4 linked regions of the Homo sapiens genome follow. The protein of the gene in region 4 interacts with the protein of the main gene of each other region in a pairwise test. Each region holds a gene or a part of one and is shown on either strand. Other genes may lie near its edges.

The links.
Region 1: the proteins of BEND7 (region 4) and LYAR interact in binary tests that used the Homo sapiens proteins (3 or more experiments, as listed by UniProt).
Region 2: the proteins of BEND7 (region 4) and FAM124A interact in a two-hybrid assay, tested with the Homo sapiens proteins (one large-scale study listed by BioGRID and IntAct).
Region 3: the proteins of BEND7 (region 4) and CHD2 interact in binary tests that used the Homo sapiens proteins (3 or more experiments, as listed by UniProt).

What each region holds. Positions count from the first base shown.
Region 1 is NC_000004.12:4,273,155-4,276,654, reverse strand, and holds part of LYAR (cell growth-regulating nucleolar protein), read left to right. Parts: intron 1-1,885; coding exon 1,886-2,288; intron 2,289-2,985; coding exon 2,986-3,072; intron 3,073-3,500. UniProt on the Homo sapiens protein: Plays a role in the maintenance of the appropriate processing of 47S/45S pre-rRNA to 32S/30S pre-rRNAs and their subsequent processing to produce 18S and 28S rRNAs. Also acts at the level of transcription regulation.
Region 2 is NC_000013.11:51,274,398-51,277,897, forward strand, and holds part of FAM124A (protein FAM124A), read left to right. Parts: intron 1-3,500.
Region 3 is NC_000015.10:92,938,324-92,941,823, reverse strand, and holds part of CHD2 (chromodomain-helicase-DNA-binding protein 2), read right to left. Parts: intron 2,247-3,500; coding exon 2,106-2,246; intron 3-2,105; coding exon 1-2. UniProt on the Homo sapiens protein: ATP-dependent chromatin-remodeling factor that specifically binds to the promoter of target genes, leading to chromatin remodeling, possibly by promoting deposition of histone H3.3.
Region 4 is NC_000010.11:13,501,515-13,505,014, forward strand, and holds part of BEND7 (BEN domain-containing protein 7), read right to left. Parts: intron 2,080-3,500; exon of another isoform or gene 1,347-2,079; intron 1-1,346.

The DNA.
Region 1 (3,500 bases), on a different chromosome or scaffold from region 4:
AAACTCCTGACCTCAGGTGATCTCCCTACCTCGGCCTCCCAAAGTGCTGGGATTACAAGCATGAGCCACCGCACCCGGCCTACAGTATCCGTTTTCTTTTTTTTTTTTTTTGAGACAGAGTTTCATTCTTGTCACCCAGGCTGGAGTGCAGTGGCGTGATCTTGGCTCACTGCAACCTCCACCTTCCGGGTTCAAGTGATTCTCCTGCCTCAGCCTCCCCAGTATCCATTTTCTAATGCTGCTCTTGTAGCCAAGGATCGAGCCTTAAGGTCTGAGTCCTGAGTCCTTGCACTCTAGTGAAAGCTTGTCCTTTTTTATTTGGTCCAGTTTTGAGGACATAGTCCTTGCTACCCACAATCTCCCAAAGGAGGAAGACTGTAGGTAACTTACCCTGTCCTTTGGCTAGACTAACAGAGACGGAATTTGAACCCCCGCCTGCAGGTGCATCAGCTCAGTGGTTTCTCACACCTGGAAGCAGCCACTGGCCACTCTCTTTCCCTCCAGAGGCATCAGGGAACATGGAACAGTTCAATGAATTGCTCCAGGTCATCTCTTGAGAAAGGGGCTCAGGGAGGGAGTTCAGGAAGGAATGGGACTGAACTTGCTGATGTCACTGTTTAAAGTAGGCTCTATGTGCTGATTTTAATAAGGTAATGCAAGGCCTGGCGCTGTGGCACACACCTGTAATCCCACCACTTTGGGAGGCCAGGTCGGGCGGATCACCTGAGGTTGGGAGTTCAAGATCAGCCTGGCCAACATGGTGAAACCCTGTCTCTACTAAAAATACAAAAATTAGCCAGGTGTGGTGGTGCATGCCTGTAATCCCAGCTACTCAGAAGGCTGAGACAGGAGAATCACTTGAATCTGGGAGGTGGAGGTTGCAGTGAGCTGAGATTGCACCACTGCACTCCAGCCTGGGTGACAGTGAGACTCTGTCCCAAAAAAAATACATAAATGAGGTAATGTATTTAACAGGGGTAACCATTAGAGAGACACCTCCATACGTAAAGAATGGTGACCCCGTCTCTACAGAAAATAAACAATTTTCCGGTTTTGATAGCTTGCGCCTGTGGTCCCAGCTACTTGGGAGTCTGAGGCAGGCGTGTTGCCTGAGTCTGGGAGCTGGAGGTTGCAGTGAGCTGAGATTGTGCCACTACATTTCAGCCTGTGCAACAGAACAAAGCAAGACCCCTGTCCCCATTAAAAAAAAAAAAAGAATGATGAGAATGGTGACCATTCTTCTAATGGTAACTTTCCAGTCTGAATAATGATGATAATAACAGTACCATTTTCTAAGGCTGATAATTTACAAAACTCTTCACACACAATGGGCTGGTTTATTGGGCATGTGTTATGCTAATAAGCACATGACGGATCTTTCCTCGTTTCATCCGTCCGTGTGTGAGGTAGGTATTACTACCTTTCATTTTACAGATGAGGAAATAGGTTTGGAAAAGATAAATGACTTGCCCTTAGTCACCTGACTAGGAATTAATAGAACTGGAGCTTGAACCCAGGTCTGCAGACACATAACATCCAGTGGTTTCTACCACCCCTAAGTACTCTTCTCTTATCTAAAAGGTGAATAGTGAGCTGGAATGAAAGGTCTTATCTTCAGCGACATAAGGATTCTTCACTTTTCCAGTGGAATGAAAATGTCTGTTCTGTGCAGACAGAGGGGTGTGGACTGGGGGAAGTGGTTTCCCATTTTGTATATTTACTGCTACATTTTAGCTGTTGGTGGGGGTCACAGTTATAAAACGATAAGGGATTAAACCAACCGTTTTTCTTGAACAGTTTATGTAGTAGGCCCAGGCAATAACGTGACAACTCTATTTACACATTTAAAATGAATATGTGTTTCTTGCTTTTGCTTAATGATAAGGAACCAGTCAATAAGGAACAGGATCAACGGCCACTCCACCCAGTGGCAAATCCACATGCAGAAATCTCCACCAAGGTTCCAGCCTCCAAAGTGAAAGACGCCGTGGAACAGCAAGGGGAGGTGAAGAAGAATAAAAGAGAAAGAAAGGAAGAACGGCAGAAGAAAAGGAAAAGAGAAAAGAAAGAACTAAAGTTAGAAAACCACCAGGAAAACTCAAGGAATCAGAAGCCTAAGAAGCGCAAAAAGGGACAGGAGGCTGACCTTGAGGCTGGTGGGGAGGAAGTCCCTGAGGCCAATGGCTCTGCAGGGAAGAGGAGCAAGAAGAAGAAGCAGCGCAAGGACAGCGCCAGTGAGGAAGAGGCACGCGTGGGCGCAGGGAAGAGGAAGCGGAGGCACTCGGAAGGTAAGTGGCTAGCTCACGCTCTGGGATTCATCTGAAAACCGGGAAAGCTGTGAATTTGGGATATTTAAGCCTGTTAGACCTAGCGTTTTGTGTGCGTGTGTGTGTGGTTTTTTTTTTTTTTGTTTTTTTTGAGACGGAGTCTTGCTCTGTTGCCCAGGCTGGAGTGCAGTGGCACGATCTCAGCTCACTGCAACCTCCACCTCCCAGGTTCAAGCGATTCTTCTGTCTCAGCCTCCTGAGTAGCTGAGATTACAGACGTGTGTCACCAGACCCAGCTAATTTTTGTATTTTTAGTAGAGATGGGGTTTCGCCATGTTAGCCTGGCTGGTCTCGGACTCCTGACCTCTGGTGATCCGCCCCCCTCGGCCTCCCAAAGTGCTGGGGTTACAGGCATGAGCTACCGCACCTAGCTAGACCTTATGTTTTGAACCAAGTAAGGGAACGAGCATAAGCTTTGTGGCCAGGCAGAGGTGGGCCCTGCCCAGGCAAATGACCTCACTTCTCAACTCCTTTCATCCCATCTCCAGCATGGAGGAGGATAAAACCCTCCTGGGGTTTTATAAACCGGGGCTGGGCAGCTTGGAGAAGAAATGAGATGATACGTGGAGTTTGCCTAGCTCGCATAAGGTCTCATTAAATGGTAGCTGCTAGCGTAAATGCAAAATCTTCTTTAAAAAAAATCTTTCCAAATACTTAGTTGAAACAGATTCTAAGAAGAAAAAGATGAAGCTCCCAGAGCATCCTGAGGGCGGAGAACCAGAAGACGATGAGGCTCCTGCAAAAGGTATATCACTGCTGTCATTTGAGGAGCACGGCTGGGCACAGCGGCTCTCGCTGATAGTCCCAGCTACTTCAGAGGCAGGGGCAGGAGGGTCACTTGAGCTCAGGAGTGTGAGGCTGTAGTGAGCCATGGGCGTACCACTTTCAAAAAGCGAGAGAGAGAGAAAAGAAAAGAGAGAAATACACGGTCCCTTGTAGGTTGGGAGAGGGGCCGAGAGATGCCCCCTTCTGGGGAAGGAAGGTGTAATGTGGGCACTTCTAGTAGGGTCTTACCCTCCAGAGGTATATATAAGAATTTGAAAGTAAAATCAGTTCTCTAGGGTGTGTGAGTCAGTCTTACAGTGCCTCTCACCCACTGTCTTTAAGGAGAAAAGTAAAGCAGTCTGGTTTGGAAATGTATGTTATCTTTGAAATTTAAATAAGCCCAATATA
Region 2 (3,500 bases), on a different chromosome or scaffold from region 4:
GCATCATGTCAGCACTCAAAAGGTTTCAGATTTTGAAGCATTTTGGATTTCAGATTTGGGATTAGGAATACTCAACCTGTATTAAACAAAGCTGGTCCCTGAGGCAACTACTCAGATATTTTTTTATTTGAAAAGTTGCTCTTTATCATTAGATGTTGCTACTGCTTTTCCCAAAAATATCAGAGTCCTCATAACTTTTTTCTGTTAAAATCAAATAATATTTATTGGTATTTATGATTTATGATATATAGGCATATATCATAACTTACACACATATAAGTACCTTAAAATTACCTTAAGTTATTTTAGAAGATATGTATTTGTATCTCACATGTATTTTTGTATTTATTCATTCAGGAATATATTGAGTGCTTGCTATGTACAAAACTGAACATTTGTTTAAACACATAATTGCAGGATCAGATGTCAAGCAACCCAATTTCTAAAAGCCTCACAGAACTAAGTGAAGATTTAACAATTAACCCAGTTCCTCTAAATATATCAATATCTCCTATTTGTTGGAGTAATTTGTAAGCTCAAGTACAACTGAGAATGATAGGGACCTAAAGAATCGTGGCTTAATCAAGAGTGGCTTATTTTCTGTCCTCCCTGTGGTCATCCACAGTACTCAGGAATCCTGGTTCACAATGGCTACTGGATGCAGTAGCAAAAAGTTTTTAAAATAGAGCAAGGGGCCAGGCATGATGGCTCATGCCTGAAATCCCAGTGCTTTGGGAGGCCAAGGCAGGAGGATCACCTGAGGCCAGGAATTCAAGACCAGTCTGGGAAACATAGCCAGACCCTGTATATACAAAAAAAAAAAAAAAAAAATTGGCTGAGCATAGTATCACATGCCTTTAGCTCTAGCTACTCAGGCAGCTGCAGCAGGAGGATCACATGAGCCCAGGAGTTTGAGGCTGCAATAAGCTATAATCGTGCCACTGCACGCCAGCCTGGGTAACAGAAGGAGGCCCTGTCTCTAAAGAAATAAAGAAATAAACCAGAGTACAGTAAGTACCAGCCTTAAAGAAAAAAAGATAAATGACTTTAAAAAGAACTTCTGTTCATCAAAAGATACCAATAAGAGAACAAAAAGGTAAGCCACAAACTGGCTGATGATATTTTTTGCAATGCATATATCTAAGAAAGGTGTTAAATCCAGAGTATGCATAAAAAGCAGGCATGTCTCTAAAAGCAATGCCTAAATAGCCCATAAACATCTCATAAGATGCTCAATATCATCACTCATCAGGGAAATGCAAATTAACAACATGATGAAATGCCATTACCCACCAGAATGGCTAAAATTAAAAAGAATTACAATGCCAAATGCTGGTGAGGACGTGGAGCAACTGGAATACTTATAAATTCCTGGTAGAATTATGTATCGACGCAACCAATTTGGAAACTGACAGTATCTACTAAAGCCGCAAACATGCTCATGCTGTGGCCCAGCATTTCCACTCCTGGGAATATACCCAAGAGAAATGAGTGCATGTTGTTCACCAAATGAGGGGAAGTGGCCAAATGAGGCTTCACAGCAGCACCTTGAATTTTGTCTCCGAAGATGGCAGGTATTCTCTAAGTGCACAGACACTGGGAGCACCATGTAAAGTCATGGAGATACAAACGAGCATGAGGTGTTTGGGAGCATGGTAGTTGTAAACTGCTGGCGCACATGAGTTAGGATTCTAGAAAGACACAAGGCTCAAGGGGTAGGCCGGGTCTTGTAGAGCTTGCCAAGGAGTGAGTTTTGCCAAGGAGCTTGTTCAGGTTTGACTTTCAGAGAGATCACTCAAGAGGTATGCGGGGTGAAGCTAGGGAGGCTAAGTAACTCTTGGCAGGAAGCCACAGGGGGTGCTAATTATCACTTTGCTGCCATTTTACCAATTTGGGGGAATAAGTACTTTTACCCTGAATTATACTACCTGCCATTCTATGCAGAGAATGGAATTGGTATGTTGCTATAACTGATGATTTTCCAGAAAGCCTTACACTTCCATAATAGCGACAGGAAGAGAAGGTAGACAGATGACAATCCAGCAAGCATTTGCTCAACCGCCATCCTGTCTAGCTCAGCATCTCTTTGACAACTTTCAAACTTTCTACCAAAAACATCACTGATTTTACAAAACGTGTACGGGCTTTGTCCATTCTTAGGGTGAACTTTGCCCTTTCCATCCAAATCCTCTTCCTGTACTGACCATTCCAGAAAGACAACACAGGCTTTGCCCATGGCCAGCATCCTTAGTGAGTGTGTGAAAACCACCCAAAGGAAAGGGAAAGGAAAAGCAAAACATGGTATTTTTCTTTAGAGCAAGACTCTGATTTCTCAATGTGAACCCGTTGCCCAATTTTCTTGAGACAGCCCCAAATTTGTATTAGTCCCTGTGTTAAAATGGCCATCACGGGCTCATTACACAGCAGACATTGTCACACTGCTCATGTTTCTGCCAAGGAAAACACAAGAGGAAATGATCTTACTGGGAAAGAGGAGGTGTGAGGCTGAGGGTAAAGTCCCTGACCATGAACAAATCATGAGACTCTGCCAGGGCTCCTGGGGGAGGGGCAGAATCACCTTTACTAGCGATTTAAGAAGAAAAGATTCTTACCAAAAAGATAGCTGCACTCGTATGTTTATCACAGCACTGTCCACAGTAGCAAAGATATGGAATCAACCTAAGTGTCCATCAAGTGGATGACTGGAAAAAAAAATGCGGTATATATAGCATGGAATACTCCTTAACTATAAAAAGGAATGAAATCACATCTTTTACAGCCACATGGTTAGAATTGGAGGTCATTATCTTAAATGAAATAACTCAGAAACAGAAAGTCAAATACCACATGTTCTCATTTAGAAGTGAGACCTAAACAATGGGTACACATGGACATGCAGAGTGGAATAAGAGACACTGGAGCCTCCACAGGGTGGGAGGGTGGGAGGGTGACCAGGGGTGAGGGCTGAAAATTACCTATTGGGTGCGCTGTTCACTATTTGGGTGATGGGTACACTAAAAGCCCAGACCTCATCACTATGCAGTATCTGCACATAAGAAATCTGCACTTGTACTCCCTAAATCTATAAAAAGTAAAAAATTAAAGAGAAAGAATTGGCCGGGCATGGTGGCTCACGCCTGTAATCCCAGCACTTTGGGAGGCCGAGGCGGGTGGACCACGAGGTCAGAAGATTGAGACCATCCTGGCTAACATGGTGAAACCTTGTCTCTACTAAAAATACAAAAAATTAGCCGGGTGTGGTGGCACGTGCCTGTGGTCCCAGCTACTCAGGAGGCTGAGGCAGAAGAATCACTTGAACCCAGCAGGCAGAGGATGCAGTGGGCTGAGATCGCGCCACTGCACTCCATCCTGGCGACAGAGCGAGACTCTGTCTCAAAAAAAGAGAGAAAGGATTCTATCCATGTGCCAGGGTATGAGCCTCTTGACACCCAGATCCTTGAAAAAGATGCTTTGCCTCAGTGGTCCGCCGCAGACCCCTT
Region 3 (3,500 bases), on a different chromosome or scaffold from region 4:
AACTGCAAGAGGAATAATGCTGAATAAATGAGAAATGATCTCTTCAGAATTAAACTGCCACACATAACCGTCACTAGAATAAGAAACCATACCCTTTTGGTTCCAAAAGCATGTTGTTTTATAGATCTGCCATTTACAGTAGGCTCAAAGCTTACTTTTTTTTCCTAAAGTGCTGATGAATGCTCCTAAACAACTGTAGGGAGTCTAACTCAATTTGAAAATAAAAATTCTATATTTATACTGATTTGTATAAGCAAGATATAGAAAACTATAAGGACACTTCTATTTTTTTCATTTTTTAGTATCAGATTATTATGTAAACAAGTAGACTACCACACAAAAAAAGAAAAACCATAATGGAAGAAAAAATTTGCTACTATTTCATCAGGCAAAAAGAGAAGCAATATTTCTAAAATTAAAAATGTCAACCCTGTATGTTGTCTCCCAGTAATAAGAATATGAAATTTAAGTATTCCCAGACTGCTGGAAGCTTCAACACAAATACTTCCTGGTTTAAAAAAAGAAACATATTGGCTAGGCGCGGAGGCTCACACCTGTAATCCCAGCACTTTGGGAGGCTGACACAGGTGAATCACGAGGTCAGGAGTTAGAAACCAGCCTGGCCAACATGGTGACCGTATCGATTAAAAATACAAAAATTAGCCGGCATGGTGGGCGCCTGTAATCCCAGCTACTCTGGAGGCTGAGGCAGCAGAATCACTTGAATCCGGGAGGCAGAGGTTGCAGTGATCCAAGATCGCGCCACTGCACTCTAGCCTGGGCAACACAGCAAGACTCCGTCTCAAAAAAAAAAATTATATATATATATTTATATATATATTTATATTTATATTTATATTTATATATATTTATATTTATATATATTTTATATATATTTATATGTATATTTATATATATATTTATATATATTTTTATATATATTTATATGTATATTTTTATATATTTATATATTTATATATATTTTTATATATTTATAATATTTATATATATTTATATTTATTTATATATTTATATATTTTTTATATTTTTTATATATATTTTTATATATGTAACTTCCTATCACATATTAACAATGAATGATTGAGTCACAAGAAAGAAAAACAATCCTGGATGTAGTACAGTTACAGTAAGAAAAAGTGCTAGGCTATACACTAGCATACTCAAAGCCCAGTCCTAGCTTTGGAATTATTAACTGGATACATTGAATAAGTTATGAATATCTCTAGGATTCATTTTCACCATCTCTATGAAGAACAAATCTGTAAAATCTAAAAAAAAAAATACTTGATTTCTATAAAGTAAACTACTAGTGTTTGCATATATCTGTTCCTTTATTTCATTTTCCTTTTTCTTTTTGAGACAGGATCTAGCTTTTTTGCCTGGAGTGGAGTGCAGTGGCGTGATCTCAACTCACTGCAACCTCCATCTCCCAGGATTCTCCCACCTCAGCCTCCCAAGTAGCTGGGACTGCAGGTGCATGCCGCCACCACACTCGGCTTTTTCTTATTTTTTGTAGAGACAGGGTCTCGCCCTGTTGTCTAGGCTGGTCTCAAACCCCTGGGCTCAAGCAATCTGCCTGCCTCGGCCTCCCAAAGTGTTGGAATTACAGGCATGAGCCACTGAGCCTGGCCTATTTCACTAATGATAATTCCTATTAATGCTTCATATCCTATTAGTACTTGATAAAATCAGATTCAAGTAGCAATACGTTAAGCTGAACCTCAGAAAAACGTCTGTGATTCAAAGAGCAATTCAGAAGTAGGAATATAATCCAAATATCTTTAATGGAAAAAAATGTTATGAAATGAAGATAATGCCACTAAGTCACCATTGGACAGGACACGAACTTGTGGTGTTTTTTAGGAATGAAGGCTTCAAATGAGCTATTGCTACTCTTTTCCTATTCCCCTTGGCTCAATACCACTCTTTTTGCAAGAAAGCTAACCAGATTTCTGAAAACAACTTCAGGACATAGGCTGTTATTTTTATCTATTAAGTGCACAACCCCGGACTTATGAGAACCAAAATCTAACCAACTACTTTATCACATCACACCAGTGAAACACTTCTGGGGTACAACTTACCTAACGTTTTTAGCCGCTCTTCGACGAGTCTGCCTTTTGGGAGCTTCGTCATCATCATCATCCTCATCAGAAGAATCTTGCTTTTTTCTCTTTCCACGCTGAGTCTTCGGCTGCTTTTTAACACGAGGTTTGGGCACTGTTCTAAAATGAGAAGAGAAACAAAAGGCTAAGTCTTCACTTTATCATTTGGTGTCTACTTTATATAACAGTATTTCCCAGAGCAGTGGTTCATACATCAGAATGTAACATTTCACTTGGGGAATGTTAAACATGCATATTCTTGGGCCCTACTCCCTGAAATTCTAATTCACTAGAAATCTGGATTTCCAACAGGAAGGTCATTCTAATGCTGATAATCCTCAATCATTTATGGGAAAGAACGTGAATGTTTCACAAATGTTCATCAGGATTACCTGATATAAAAACACATACACAGCATGTTGTTCATGATAGTATCTCTTTGGTGGGCAAACTGGAAATAGCTATCAAACTATTTTACTTGTAGGAATTAACAGTTTTACTTGTAGGAATTAATCCTATTGATATACACCTAAACAGGCATAATAAAGTATTCACTATAGCATTATTTGCAACAACAAAACATTAAGAAAACTCTAAATATTCTTCAACTGGAAACTAAACAGTACCATGTACTCATAGAAAAAAAAAAAGAGTTTTTTGTATACTAATACGAAAGGATTTCCAGGATAAAGAAACCTACAGAACAAGCAGCAGAGGATGCTATTATCTGTGTGAAGAAAGTAAAGCACAAGAAGTAACTATACATAAGTTTTTACTGTATGTGTATAAAATATACCTGGAATACTACCTGAGAGACTGTGTGCCCTATCACAGAATTAACTTGGACAGACCAGGGAGATGGCCAGGATTGAAAGCCACAGTCTAGAAGCTCACCTAAGGAAATCCCCAAATATTCCATCAGTGATAAAAAGGTGAAAGAAGTCAGAGAGGGAGAGAAATGGATACTCATGATCACATTTATTATCTCTTTCTCTCATACCTCCCATACCTTTCTCATAACCAAACCTAAACAGATGATCAACGATGTAATAAATAATGAGCAAAATTCTAAAAGACAGAACTGGCGTGACAGTTCTGAGATAAACTTATTAAGCTGAGATAAAATAAGATAAAATTCAGTTGACAAATTCCCCTGCTGGTGTTGGGGGGTAAGTACAATGTCCTAGGCCAGAGGTTGGCAAACTTTTTCTGTAAATGGCCAGAGAGTAAATATTTTAGGCTCTGCCAGCCAAGAGGCAAAATGGGGACCAATGTATAGGTCCTTACATAATGAAAGAAAATAAATTTTCACAAATTTTTTTAAATAATTCAAAATGAAATAATCAGGTACATTTACTGCAATATATATCTACT
Region 4 (3,500 bases):
GAGAAATGAATTTTTTTTTCTCAAACCCAAAAGATAAAATCTTAGGCCACTGTTGGGCATGGTGGCTCACACGTGTAATCCCAGCCCTTCGGGAGGCTGAGATGGGAGGGTCATTTGAGCTCAGGAGTTTGCGACCAGCCTGGGCAATATGGAGAAACCCCGTCTCTACAAAAAGTACAAAAGTTAGCCCAGCATGGTGGTGTGTGCCTGTGGTCCCAGCTACTTGGAGGCTGAGGTGGAAGGACTGCTTGAGCCCCGGAGGCAGAGGTTGCAGCGAGCCGAGATTGTGCCACTGCACTTCAGCCTGGGTGATAGTGGCAGACCCTGTCTCAAAAAAAAAAAAAATCTTAGGCCAGGGTATGTGTGTGTAAACATTCATGCAGTTACTCTAATAAATGCTTGAAATTTAAACTGTAAGATAAAGAAAAGGCTAACAGACAGCATCTGTTAAGAAAAATACAGCTCCTACAAATACACACAGCACATTCAATATAATGATTGCACTTAGGATCAATTATAATGATCAATATATGTATATATAAGGATATGTATATATATATATGGATCAACATAATGATTGCACTTAGGATAAGCCAGGTTTCTCTGTAGAACTGGTAACTGCACAATAACCTAGCCGTTTTGTGCTTTCCAGTTAGATATTTAGCTTATTAATATATGTGTTATGTTACTAAATAAGGAAGTTTATTTTGAATTTACTGTTCACTATTTTGAAGTAAATATCTTTAGTTTTTAAAAATGATACTAAAAACATTACAGAATATATTAATTCTGTCTAATTGAACATGAGTGAACACGGAAATAACACAGATTTCCAAATTTACAATATTGCTATGTGTTGTTGGCATATGCTTGAGAGGAGAAATATTCTAATTTGAGATAAAACTATTTCTACTTCAAACCCCTGTGAAAATTACAATATATAAACAATAAATCATATTCCAGATTTTATGAGAATGAACGACCAAGCGAGATTTCAATAACGCAGAGTCAGCAAAATTTACTACTTTCTCGAGAGGCTACGGAACAGGGTGTGTCTGGAAGAGGTCCCAAAGGAATCCTGAAAGATAAGCCCACAGGCAAATGCGGTATTAATTTCAGCAACCAGACACATACGTTCCCGGCTAGTTAACACCACAATTCAAGCAAGAGGAGGCATCTTTTCTGTGTGGTTTCCACCCACAGCCCTCCCCATCAGGCCGGGTATGCCTGCACTGAAGTCCATGCAGAGACTAGCCTTCTCTGGCACAGGTTGGTGGCCGCCACCCCTGACCCCAGGCTCCCTGAACAGAGCAGCCATAGCCAGGCCACATGGGGCAGATACCCACCCCGGCTCTCAAGTCCATGCCAGCTTGCTTCTCTACACTAACTGACACATCACAGGAGAAGGGATGTGTCTCCTGCCAAAGGTCCTGCCTCTGCTCTGTAGATATAATGCTAGGATAGATACAGTGCTACCATTAGCAACAGGAAGGCGTCACAAGGATTCTGGAACCTTCTGAGGGCAAATCTGCTTTGTCATGACCTCAGTTTCAGAGTTCCAGAACTTATGCCTATGAAAAGTACATGGCTGAAAATACAACCTGAGTTTTGCATAACTTTGTATTTTCATTTTGACAACCAGCATCCTAAGCTGCAGGTGGCAATGAGGGAGGAAGGTGGCAGGTGTGAGGGGTTCTGGCGGTGGGCTGCGCCTGCCGTGTGCAGAAACATGTCTCCCAAAGGCAAAACAAAACGAAACAAATACACAAAAAATCAGGACGTCGGGGGACTGAGGAGGAAGAAACAGTGCTGAAAGGAAGAGGGCAGAAGGCCAGAAGCAGGTCCCTCCTCAGAGGAAGTAAGCTCACGGCCTAGCTCACTGTGGCATGTTTTAAAGGATGGAACACATCCTTTAAAGGATGGCACAGTGGCTCACACCTGTAATCCCAGCACTTTGGGAGGCTGACGTGGGTGGATCACCCGAGATCTGGAATTTGAGACCAGCCTGGCCAACATGGTGAAAGCCTGTCTCTACTAAAAACACAAAAGTTAGCTGGGCGTGGCAGCGCGCGCCTGTAGTTCCAGCTACTCGGAGGCTGAGGCAGGAGAATCACTTGAACCTGGGAGGCGGAGGTTGCAGTGAGCCAAGGTTGTGCCACTGCACTCCAGCCTGGGCAACAGGGTGAGACTCCATCTCAAAACAAACAAACAAACAAACAAACAACAACTAAAAGGATGGAACACAGAAAACTGCAGTAACTGCAGAAGTCTGTGCTGAGAGGAGAGCTGAGAGGTGAGCTGAGAGTCGGCAGGGAAGGTTGAAGAAGGGCAGAGTGTGGAAAGTTTCTTAGGGGAGATGACGGGACGTTCAGGAATGGTCTCTGGGGTTTACTGAGTCACACTCTCTTCACCCAAAGCAGCAGAAGCAGCTGAGCAGGTCACCCCTGCAGCTGCTGCCTAGGAGGAGGGAGTCCTGGGGCTCTACTCCACAGCAGGGAATGATGAGTGACAGGCTTTGGCAGACAGGAAGAAAGAGGTTTCCTTGCACATTTGGGGCAGGTGGGGCAGAGGATCAGAAACGAGGCCTGAAGACTCCAAGTGACAATGACAAAGAAGCTGAGTCAACCTAAATAATCTGGGGACAGTGGGTGCTGGGAGCAGATGAGCAGGCCGAGCCGTAGAAGCTCGTTGAGTGTGGTGCAGTGTTAGTGTGGGACAGGACAGGCTGGGCTATTACACCCACACCTGGTCTCGCCTCCTAACTACGCCCACCTGCTACTGGATACTAGCCAAGCCACTGAATATTCTCTGGTTTCCTAAATCCTAAAGCAAGAGTCTGAACCCTAACCCGGGGAGGGGCACATGGTAGTCCAGGAGGGGCACAGGATTTTCACCATCACCAAGGTGTTAACCAAGCACTTTGTGGCTCTAGAAGTCCTTTTCGGAAGACAGGCTTCTTCTATCATAGTGGAATCCAAGTTCTTTGATAAAAAAAAAAATTGGTGAAAAGTATACAGGAGATTGAGATTGGAAGCATTCACTGACTTCTACTGGTATTTCCAGTTATCATTAGTCAATGACTTCTCCAGGTATAGATACCAGGAAAAGGAAGCTCTTTGGAGCAACGAGCTCTCTAGCGAGACAGGATGCTATAAGGAAACCTGTGCATTTTTCCTGATCTCTTTCCAAGACGCTGAATCCTTTTCAGAAAAACAAACACAAAGGAATCTTACTAAAATGGATCCATGCCACGTGACTACCTTATTGGCAGCCTGAAATCCTTTGGAGTTTAGTAACTATACTCCTTGGACAAGATCTAAAAAGATTGTATGCTGGATTCTCCCCCTCACTAAATTTCAAGACTCTACTAGATCACGTTCCTTTACGCAAAGAATTTATGACACATAGTCTTGCAGGATCTGATACATGTGAGGGCAACACAGAAGTCAACACACAAGGTTGCCCTTAACTTGGCTAGGAGGGAAGGATCCACTACGTGG